Homo sapiens: one gene and its partners. The protein of the gene in region 1 purifies or fractionates together with the protein of each later gene. This does not show direct contact. Each region holds a gene or a part of one and is shown in the gene's direction. Other genes may lie near its edges.

The links.
Region 2: the proteins of GPBP1 (region 1) and OTUB2 purify together in Homo sapiens (affinity purification with mass spectrometry; one large-scale study listed by BioGRID and IntAct). This does not show direct contact.
Region 3: the proteins of GPBP1 (region 1) and EPB41L5 purify together in Homo sapiens (affinity purification with mass spectrometry; 2 studies listed by BioGRID and IntAct, with this or other methods). This does not show direct contact.

What each region holds. Positions count from the first base shown.
Region 1 is NC_000005.10:57,180,483-57,184,214, forward strand, and holds part of GPBP1 (vasculin), read left to right. Parts: intron 1-3,732. UniProt on the Homo sapiens protein: Functions as a GC-rich promoter-specific transactivating transcription factor.
Region 2 is NC_000014.9:94,046,385-94,049,430, forward strand, and holds the end of OTUB2 (ubiquitin thioesterase OTUB2), read left to right. Parts: 3' UTR 1-2,546; downstream 2,547-3,046. UniProt on the Homo sapiens protein: Hydrolase that can remove conjugated ubiquitin from proteins in vitro and may therefore play an important regulatory role at the level of protein turnover by preventing degradation.
Region 3 is NC_000002.12:120,075,439-120,079,170, forward strand, and holds part of EPB41L5 (band 4.1-like protein 5), read left to right. Parts: intron 1-37; coding exon 38-82; intron 83-262; coding exon 263-315; intron 316-1,532; coding exon 1,533-1,653; intron 1,654-1,790; coding exon 1,791-1,878; intron 1,879-3,054; coding exon 3,055-3,143; intron 3,144-3,732. UniProt on the Homo sapiens protein: Plays a role in the formation and organization of tight junctions during the establishment of polarity in epithelial cells.

The sequences.
Region 1 (3,732 bases):
CAAATGTTTAGGTAACAACGTTTAGATCTATCAATGTTTAGGTAACGTTTAGATCCAGGTAAGGTACTGATGTAGAAAAAGGGTCATGGCTGAGGGTTTGGAAGGGAACTTGGTTTAGGATATGGAATATCTAGAAAAATGCCTGTGTGACTGTATGTTCACCTAACTTTTTTTGGCCTTAGTTTCTTCATTATACTGATGGAAATATATATGGAGGGTTTTTGTAAATTGTGAAGTGTAATACAGATGTAAAGATTTTTTTGGGGTTTTTTGTTTTGAGACAGAGTCTCGCTCTGTCACTCATGCTGGAGTGCAATGGCACAATCTCAGTTCATTGCAACCTCCGCCTCCCAGGTCCAAGCGATTTTCCTGCCTCAGCCTCTCAAGTAGCTGGGATTACAGGTGCCCACCACCACGCCCAGCTAATTTTTGAATTTTTAGTAGAGATGGGGTTTCCCCATGTTGGTCAGGCTGGTCTCCAACTCCTGATCTCAGGTGATCCACCCACCTCAACAAATTTAAATATGGCTTTAAAATATAGTTTGAAAACTGAATTAAGAATTAAAGGGGGCCAGGTGCAGTGGCTCATGCCTGTAATCCCAACAGTTTGGGAGGCCAAGGCAGGAGGAACACTTGAGATTAGGAGTTCGAGACTAGCCTGAGAAACATAACAAGACTGTCTCTCTACAAAACATAAAAAAAATTAGCTGAGCATGGTGACATGCGCCTGTAGTCCTAGCTACTTGGAAGGCTGAGGCAGGAGGACTGCTTGAGCCTAGGAAGTCGAGATGGCAGTGAGCGGTGATTGCACCACTGCACTCCAGCCTGGGTTGCAGAGTGACACCCTGCCTCAAAAATGAATAAGAATTAAAGAGATGAGGCCGGATGCCTCGGTATTTTTGGCGCTGCGATCGCGACACTGCACTCCAGCTTGGGGTGACAAGACTGTGTCAAAAAAAAAAAAAAGAACCTCTGACATACAAAATACTATTTAAAAAAGGGGTGAGGGGGCAGGGCATGGTGGCTTATGCCTATTATCCTAATACTTTGGGAGCCTGAGGCACGAGGCTCACTGGAGCCCAGGAGTTTGAAACCAGCCTAGGGAACATTTAAAAAAAAGGTGGGGGGGCGGTGCGGGGGCAGGGAATACATCTCTTTTCAAACTCCTGACCTCAGGTGTTCTACCCACCTCGGCCTCCCAAAGTGCTGGAATTACAGGTGTGAGCCACCATGCCAGGCCGAGACAGTGGTTTCTGAGAATTCTTTGAAATTGATAATTTTGTGGGCATTTCAGTGCATTTTTCTGGAAAGGTCCATTACCTTCAACAGAAATGTTGAAAAACAAAATGTTAGTGGTTACTGGTAAACTGTTTTGTGGTTGTGACTGTTTTTCAGTTTTTACCTGCTTGCTTTTCCCATTTTGTCAGCTGTCCCACCCATCACAATAGTTAACAGATTTGCTGTATAACCCTGCAGATAATTGCTAGTTTCTGCATCTTTTTATATACAAGATATGTCATTTAGTTTCTTGGTCTTTAGTTATTATTTTGTTCACAGCTTGGTGGGTGCAGTGCTTTTGGTCTTTCCATTTTCTTCCCTTTAATTATTTTATAAATTTTTTGAGACGGAGTCTCCCTCTTGCCCAGGCTGGAGTGCAGTGGCATGATCTTGGCTCACTGCAACCTCCACCTCCCAGGCTCAAGTGCTGCTTCTGCCTCAGCCTCCCTAGTAGCTGAGATTACAGGCACCTGCCATCAGGCCTGGCTAAGTTTTGTATTTTTAGTAGAGATGGGGTTTCACCATGTTGACCAGGCTGGTCTTGAACTCCTGACCTGAAGTGATCTGCCCACCTCAGCCTCCCAAAGTGCTGGGATTATAGCCATGAGCTTCTGTGCCTGGCCTTTTTTTGAGATGGAGTCTCACTCTGTCGCCCAGGCTGGGGTGCAGTGGTGCGATCTCGGTTCACTGCAACCTCCAACTCCCGGGTTCAAGTGATTCTCCTGCCTCAGCCTCCCGAGTAGCTGGGATTATAGGCGCCTGGCACCATACTTAGCTAATTTTTGTATTTTTAGTAGAGATGAGGTTTCACCATGTTGGCCAGGCTGGTCTTGAACTCCTGACCTCGTGATCCACCTGCCTCAGCCTCCCAAAGTGCTGGGATTACAGGCGTGAGCCACCGCACTCGGCTTCTTCTCTTTAATTCTTATTTATTTATTTTTGAGACAAAGTGTCACTCTGCCACCCAGGCTGGAGTGCAGTGGTGCAGTCACGGCTCACTGCCATCTCGACCTCCTAGGCTCAAGCAGTCCTCCTGCCTCAGCCTCCCAAGTAGCTGGGACTATAGGCGCATGTCACCATGCTCGGCTAATTTTTTTTATTTTGTAGAGAGAGAGTCTTGTTATGTTTCCCAGGCTAGTCTCGAACTCCTAATCTCAAGTGTTCCTCCTGCCTTGGCCTCCCAAACTGTTGGGATTACAGGCATGAGCCACTGCGTCTGGCCCCCTTTAATTCTTAATTCAGTTTTCAAATTATATTTTAAAGCCATATTTCAATTTTTTTCCTACACTTTTCATGCAAGAATAAGTTTTTAAAACTCTTAGTTGCCAGGCATGGTGGCTCATGCCTGTAATCCCAGCACTTTGGGAGGCTGAAGCGGGTGGATCACCTGAGGTCAGGAGTTCAAGACCAGCCTGACCAACATGGCGAAACCCCGTCTCTAATAAAAATACAAAAAATTAGCTGGGCGTGGTGGCACATGCCTGTAATCCCAGCTACTTGAGAGGCTGAGGCAGGAGAGTCGCTTGAACCCAGGAGGCAGAGGTTGCAGTGAGCCGAGATCATGCCATTGCACTCCAGCCTGGGTGACAAGAGTAAAAACTCTGTCTCTAAATAAATAAAAACATACATACATACAAACATATGTACAACTCTTAAGTTATCCTTTCTCCGAAACTGAGAATCTGGGCTTGGCTTGTGGCTCACGCCTGTAATCCAGCACAGGAAATTTAGAAATTAGCCCAGGTCAGTAGTGCGCCTTGTAGTCCCAGCTACTTGGGAGGCTGAGGTGGGAGGGTCACTTGAGTCCTGGAATTTAAGATGTCAGTGAGCTATGATTGTATCACTGCACTGTAGCCTATGCACCAAACAAGAACCGCCCCCCCATCTCAAAAAAAGAATTACGATGAAAGTGTAGTATAAGGGAAATACTAGTCTATGTTTTTGTATTAAAATTAACATTTCAAGAGTTGATAGCTAATATTTTTTAATACGGGGGGGATATGAATTTTTTTTTTTTTTTTTTGTTTTGGAGACAGGGTCTCACTCTATCACCCAGGCTGGAGGGCAGTGGTGCCATCACAGTTTGCTGCAGCCTCGACCTCCCAGACACAGGTGATCCTTTCTTTCACATCAGCCTTCTAAGTAGCTGGGACCACAGGTGAGTGCTGCCATGTCCAGCGAATTTTTTATTTTTTGTAGAGATGGGCTTCTGCCATGTCTCAGAATTTTGGTAGGCTGAGGCTGGTGGATCGCTTGAACCCAGGAATTTGAGACCAGCCTGGCCAACATGGTGAAACCCTGTCTTTACTAAAAATACAAAAATTAGCCGGGCGTGGTGGTGCATACCTGTAATCCCAGCTACTTGGGAGGCTGAGGCAGGAGAATCACTTGAACCTGGGAGATGGAGGTTGCAGTGAGCCGAGATCGTGCCACTGCAGTCCAACCTGGGTGACA
Region 2 (3,046 bases), on another chromosome or scaffold:
GTTGGACTGGGCTCTGACAGATGGCCTATTGAGGTCAACTTGAATGTGAGGGCTACGGTGTGGTTTCAAACATTCATGATGGATGTATTTTCCTACCCCTAACTTAAGGAGAAAAAAAAAAAGACTTCCTTTTTTTGCCAAAGTCCAGAAAGGGGCCTTTAGCCTTTAGTAGGAGCTCAAATTGTTGGGGCCCCTCTACCTCTCTCAGGGCTAGAACTGCCTGACTCTTGGTGGACGAGCCCTTCAGGGTTCTGCTTTCAGCCCCACCTGGACAGAGGCTTACAAGACTAGGGTCTGGACCAGAATCTGTGTATTTCTGTCTGGGACCAGGAAGCCGCAGCTGTCCCATCATCCCCAGCAAATCCTAGAAGTGGAGTCTGGATACTTCAAGGATAGAAGTGTTGGCACGCACAGCCATGGACCCAGCTGAGCAGAGCAGACGCTTTGCAGGCTGCCCCTGGCTTCTTCCTCCCTTTCCCGCTTCTGCTCTCTTTATGGACTGGTCAGAGGGTAGGTGGGAAAGAACAGACAAGCCATGGGAAGTTGGCAGTGGGGAGATTTCCACTGTGGAAACCGCCTGGGAATTCCGGCCAGCAGCTTCCTCCTTCAGCCACCTGGCCATACCCCTTAAATAAGCCCCTCACCTTGCTGCCTCAGGACCTTCAAGATTCCATCTGTGGGCTGGCCGGCAAGATGGCACCAGTGGGGACCCACACCCTGGCTGGGCAGAGGTGCTGCTAGCAACCTCTCTTCCTCTATAAGAGGAAATGGAAAATGCAGGGTGTGGAATTGCCCTTTGGGGTCCTTCCTTAATTGAAGGCCACCTTCTCACAGGTTTCATTCTGCAGGGATTTACTGGAATCTATTGGTGCTGCTGCATGAGTCTGCTGACAACCTGACTGCACAAGGACTGGGTAGCAGACTCCTCAGAGTCCTCTTGACACAAATGTCAGATTTGTGTCACTCTTCTGCCTTCGTGAAAAGCCAATAGCACTCTCAGATATCAGGGGATTTTAGTTCCAAGCAGGGACCCTGGTTTCCATACTGCCCTCAGCTGGAGTTTGGATCCAAAGGCTCTGGCTAAGTCATTATGTCACTTTTTCACAGGAATGTAAATTTGACTGTCACCTCTGAATTTGTTCAGTGTCCCACCATGGTCTATGAGAAGTACACTGGAAGCGTGGGGGGAACACATGACATGATTTGTGAATATCATCATCTTTGCCAGACAAGTCTCCAGGGGATCCCTGTTTCCCAACTGAAAGGTGTGAACGGACACACACACAGCCTGGATGACGCCTTGGCTGTTCTAAGGGGCTGTAAGGTGGGCTCTGGGCCTTCCAGCTAGGCTCTCAAGCACAGCAGAAGCCTCACTGGGCTGCTATGTCTCTGTATTTGTGGCTTGTGTGGTAGCCTCAGAAGCAGAGCTGTTTGGCAGACTGGCTGGAGAAATTCCCTCTAGGAGACTTGCCTGTGCTGTGCTTCCAGGTCACAGAGCCCCCCGGAAACTCACAGGGGCCCTCTTCCCAGAAAAGAATCTATTCTATCACTTCAGAATCAGGACACTCAAGCTCTGGCAGAGGAAGGCCAAGTTACTTTCATGGTCTTACCCTCTGCTTTTCCCCTTTTTGCAAAAAACCACTGGCCAAATCCGAACCATTGCCCTTGTTTCCCCCACGTTCTCTCTCAGATCTTTGTCTCGAAGGGAAAACATAGTGGATGAAAAGGTGTGGCAGGCTTTGGCACCTTGTTAAAATTTCTAGTCATCTGTGGATGTTACCTTGCTTGTCCACAGCAGCCAGTCACCCTGGCCAGTCCCACTTCCTGGATAATTCTCTACCCTCACCCCACAGAGCCATCTCTCTCCAGACCAAAAGCTGGAAGGAGAGTTGCTTTGAGAGCTTGTTTTTACAACTGCATGTTTATTATGATACTTTCTCTCCAAAGGAAACTTTTAAATCAATGGGAACAATTAGCAACAGAAAGAGCACAGTCCCTGCTTTTGACTGGGTTCCTATTTTAAGCACAAATGAGAGCTCTGGAGCCAGAATGCCAGGGTTCTAACTTCAGCATTCACTTACTAGCTGTATGATCTTGGCCAAGTCACTTCACCTCCCTGAGCCCCAATTCCCAAGTTTGTGAAATGGCAACAATACCTATGTGTCACTGGATTATTGGTTAAAACAGAATGAGATTCCTTGTGTGAAAATAGCTATTATACCTGACACACTCATCGTATGGGCTCTGCAAAGGGATATTCCCCAACCTGTCCTTCCTGACAGGAAGCATAGGGCACTGCAGATGGGGAAGCATGTCACCTTGGCAGTGACTCGGTGGCTTCCCAAGCAGGAGTGTCAGGGGAACCATGAGAGAGAGTCTAGGAGCAAACACATCACCACCCTGAGCAGATACAGGAGTGGGGAGGGGGCTGTAACTCAGTGAGTGGCTTCCAGGGGCCCCAGGCCCTGCTGGATGTGGGCCAAGCCCTACAGCTTCCCTAGGCAGTAAGTAAAAACATTCTCCTAGCATTAAAATGGTTTCCATAACTACTTTTGTCCTGGCTTCTTAATACTGGGTACCTGGCATGCAGCCAAGAACTCTGCTTTTCCGTGGTGCTTATGTATTAAGTAGATTAGCTGGGGAGGGATATTCCTTGTTTAATGGCAGATCCAGGACACTCCGGAAGCTCTGCCCACCAACTTCACCTTACCAGGCGAGAGTAGCACTGCTTGGAAGGCTGCTCCTGCCTTTTAAAGCCTGTCTACGTATTAGCTCCTCCACCAAGGAAAAGAATTTGCTGTTAGATGGCTAGGGCAGGACACGGACAGTCATCAGGGGATCTATGTTTGGCTTATGGCAAGTGGCTTCACTCCCACGGCTCAGGTGCCATTAGGGGATATTAAGCCCGCTTACTAACCCCACTGACCACCACTGCATCATTTGGAAAATGGAGAGTCTCCCTGCCATTCTCTGATAGCTGTCAGTCAGGAGCTGACCTCACAGACGGGCAATTTCCCCTCCTATTCCGGTCACTGGTGACACTGGG
Region 3 (3,732 bases), on another chromosome or scaffold:
GCTGTTGGGTTAAATTTGTGCCTTTCATTTTTCTTAGGTATTTATTTGTTCTTCAGTTAAAACAAGATATTCTCAGTGGAAAGTGAGTATTAGTTATTTAAGGATAAATGCACATTTTCGTGAGTGGTTGAAAAATTATTTTGAAAATAAGTTTATAGTTGTAAAAAAGAAATGGTCAACATAAAACATGTATTATTTTCATTTGTCTTAAAATGAAGGTTATGAAATCAACTTGTCTAACAAACTTGTGTTTTGGTCTCAGATTAGACTGTCCCTTTGATACAGCAGTGCAATTGGCAGCTTATAATCTGCAAGGTAAGCAATTCTTATGTTGACTGTTAAGACTCAAGTATAATCTTTTTTGTGTGTGTTTTTAGTTAAAGAAGATTCTAATTATGTGCAAGAAAAGAAACAACACTGTTTTTGTATAAACTTGTATCAGGGTCCAACTCTGACTTTTACTTGTTTTAGAACATTGCCTTCTTTTTCTTCTCTTTCATGTAATTGCGCCCTTTCCACCTAAAGTGTTGAAACGTCATACTCTACCTGATAAGTCTGTAAATGCTAAGATTGGGCCTTCGGCTAACTTTTTCCTTAAAAGAAATGCAGTTATGTAGGAGTGAATTGTTGGTGAAGCCATATAGCTTAGCAGTCCTTTTGCTCCAAACCTACATTTTGTTCAGAAATAACCACAGATGAGTACATACATGTTTGTGCATTGTTCAGATTTTTCCCTGCTGCTTTCTCCCCCCGATTTTTTTTAGTTCCTTTCAGTTATTTCTTTAGGATTAATAATTTTAAAATTTTGGAAGACAGGGACTATATTTAGATTGGTATATGGGGTCATATTCAGTGTATATCAGTATATTCTTTTGTTTTGTTTTTTTTTGAGACAGGGTCTCACTCTTGTCCCCAGGCTAGAGGGCAGTTGCATGATTGTAGCTCTCTGAAGCCTTGAACTACTGGGCTCAAACGATCTTCCTGCCTGAGTAGCTGGGTCTACAGGCCATTAGGCCTGGCTAATTTTTGTACTTTTTTTTTTTTTTTTTTTTTTTTTTAGAGACGAGGTCTTGCTATGTTGCCTAGACTGGCCTGAAACCATCTTCCACCTCAGCCCTCCCAAAGTACTGTGACTATAAGCATGAACCACCACACCCAGCCTTAGTAATATTCTTAATAGATGCCAGTTAATTGTCTTTTAACGATTGCTAAATTTTTTCATTTATTCACTATAAGGTCAGAGGTATTTCTTTATGGAAGTCTAGAAAGCAGTTTTCAAAGGTTAAGTAAGCACTGAAGTGTGAATACATTAAGAGAAAGATATGTAATTAAAAATACACTACCAAAAATAAATATGAGATATATGTGTATGACTAATATGCCAGATTTACTTTTGGAGACTTGTCTGAGTATTATGAATTTTTGTAAGAAATTCCTAAGAATCTTTCTAATCTTAGCAGTTTTCATTAATGAAATGGTTTTTGAAGGATTTAGCAGGAAATACATATAACTTTTGAAACTTATGTTTATAGCTGAACTTGGTGACTATGATCTTGCTGAGCATAGTCCTGAACTTGTCTCAGAGTTCAGATTCGTGCCTATTCAGACTGAAGAGATGGAACTGGCTATTTTTGAGAAATGGAAGGAATACAGGTATCTGGCGTTTGACCATACTTTCTTTAAAATCACCACAACAGTTATTTCATATTCATTTTCTTCTGTTTCTATCCTTGGTATAGAATTTATTTTATATTTATTGTTACTTTAAAAATCATTGTTTTAAATTTCAGAGGTCAAACACCAGCACAGGCTGAAACCAATTATCTGAATAAAGCCAAATGGCTAGAAATGTATGGGGTTGATATGCATGTGGTCAAGGTAAGCATTGTGTTGTGATGCTTTTTTAAAAATTTATTCTTTGGAGGTTCGCAGTGACTGTGGAATTTTTCAGTATGAGGGAGGGCATGGAGTTTGCATAAGCTAGCACTGGGTACTTTGGATGTATGGTTAAAAAGTTTGAGATTAAATACCAAATGACTAGAATCTCACAGAAAGGTTCATTATAAGAAAGAAGAGAAGCAACCAACATCCCTAACAAGGTACTTGGTCCTTTTAAGCTGTTATTTTATTTTATTTTATTTTTTTGCTATAAAAAATTGTTTTAAGCTTTTGAGCCATTTGTTATCCTTTTTACTTCCTGTTATACGACTTACACTGAGTAGGCTCTGTTAAAATAATTCAGGATGCAAAGTTGAAGATTTATAGCTTAAAGACTTTGATAAACTTTAGAACAGCTTTGTAGTGATTTAAGTTATTTCTAGTTTAACTAGTAACATTTTTCCAGAAAGGCGGTTGTATTAGTTCATTCTCGCACTGCTATAAAGACATAAATTTATAAAGAGGTTCAATTGGCTCATGGTTTTGCAGGCTGTACAGGCTTCTCCCTCTCAGGAGGCCTCAGGAAACTTATAATCATTGGGCAACGTGAAGGGCAAACAGGCACATCTGTACATGGCTGGCAGGAGGGAGAGAGAGCAAAGAGGGAGGTGCTACACACTTTCAGACAACCAGATCTTGTGAGAACTCATTCACTATCATGAGAACAGCAAGGGGGAAGTCCGTCTCCATGATTCAGTCACCTCCCACCAGGCCCCTCCTCCAATACTGGGGATTACAATATGACACAAGATTTGGGTGTAGACATAGAGCCAAACCGTATCAGCAGTCTTTTCCAAAATACATGATTTAAGTGGTAAGTATAATATGGGAAGAATGTGGAAACAGCTTTGTTTGTAGTGGGAGTGTAACTACCCACTTTCAATGAAGATACACTTTAAAACTCTAGTGTTTCAATGACTAGAAATAAAAATATATGCATAAATTTTTCTGAGAATATTATTATGGATACTCTAATTGTTGAAAACATCTCATATATTAATATTAGCCTGTATATAATTAATACAATTCAATACAAAAATAAAATTTAAAAGTTGTGTCAATGTGAAACCTGTTTTGTACAAATAAAGCTAACACATTTTTCTCCCCTTAAATTAGGCTAGAGATGGGAATGACTATAGTTTGGGACTAACACCAACAGGAGTCCTTGTTTTTGAAGGAGATACCAAAATTGGCTTATTTTTTTGGTAAGCAAGAGTTATTGTCAAAGATACTTACTGTTGTTTTGGTTTTTAATGAGTAAATAAAGTTAATACATAAACAAGTTTGGAAATCAAATAGTTTTGAAAAACTTGTCAATGAAAGCAACTGTCTCCTGTCACACTATTACGCATCATTATTCCTACTCTCCAGAGGCAATTATTAAAACTCTTCTAGCTGTATTTCCCATTAGTTTCAAAGTATACCACAATCTATATCTTGATATAAATATTTATATTTTTATATGTATCAGATGTTCACATGGGCACTTTCTCCCTCCATGTAGTCATGTCATTGCTTTTAATATTTATTATTCCACAATCCCTTTACCCCCTATTGTGTAAGAGGAAGATACTAATATTTTTATCCCTTCTCTAAGCTGTGCTCCTTATACTGTTCCAGCTTTTATCGTTCATACTTTTAAATTACATTTATGTTTTACTTTTACATCAAGGATAGATTTTACTTGGATTTCTTGGCCATAATTGAGTCCATCAGATTTTGTCTGGTATTCTAAAAGCTGAGAATCAGGGTACTGTTTACAATAAGATGTCTCTATCAGAATAGTACAGAGCC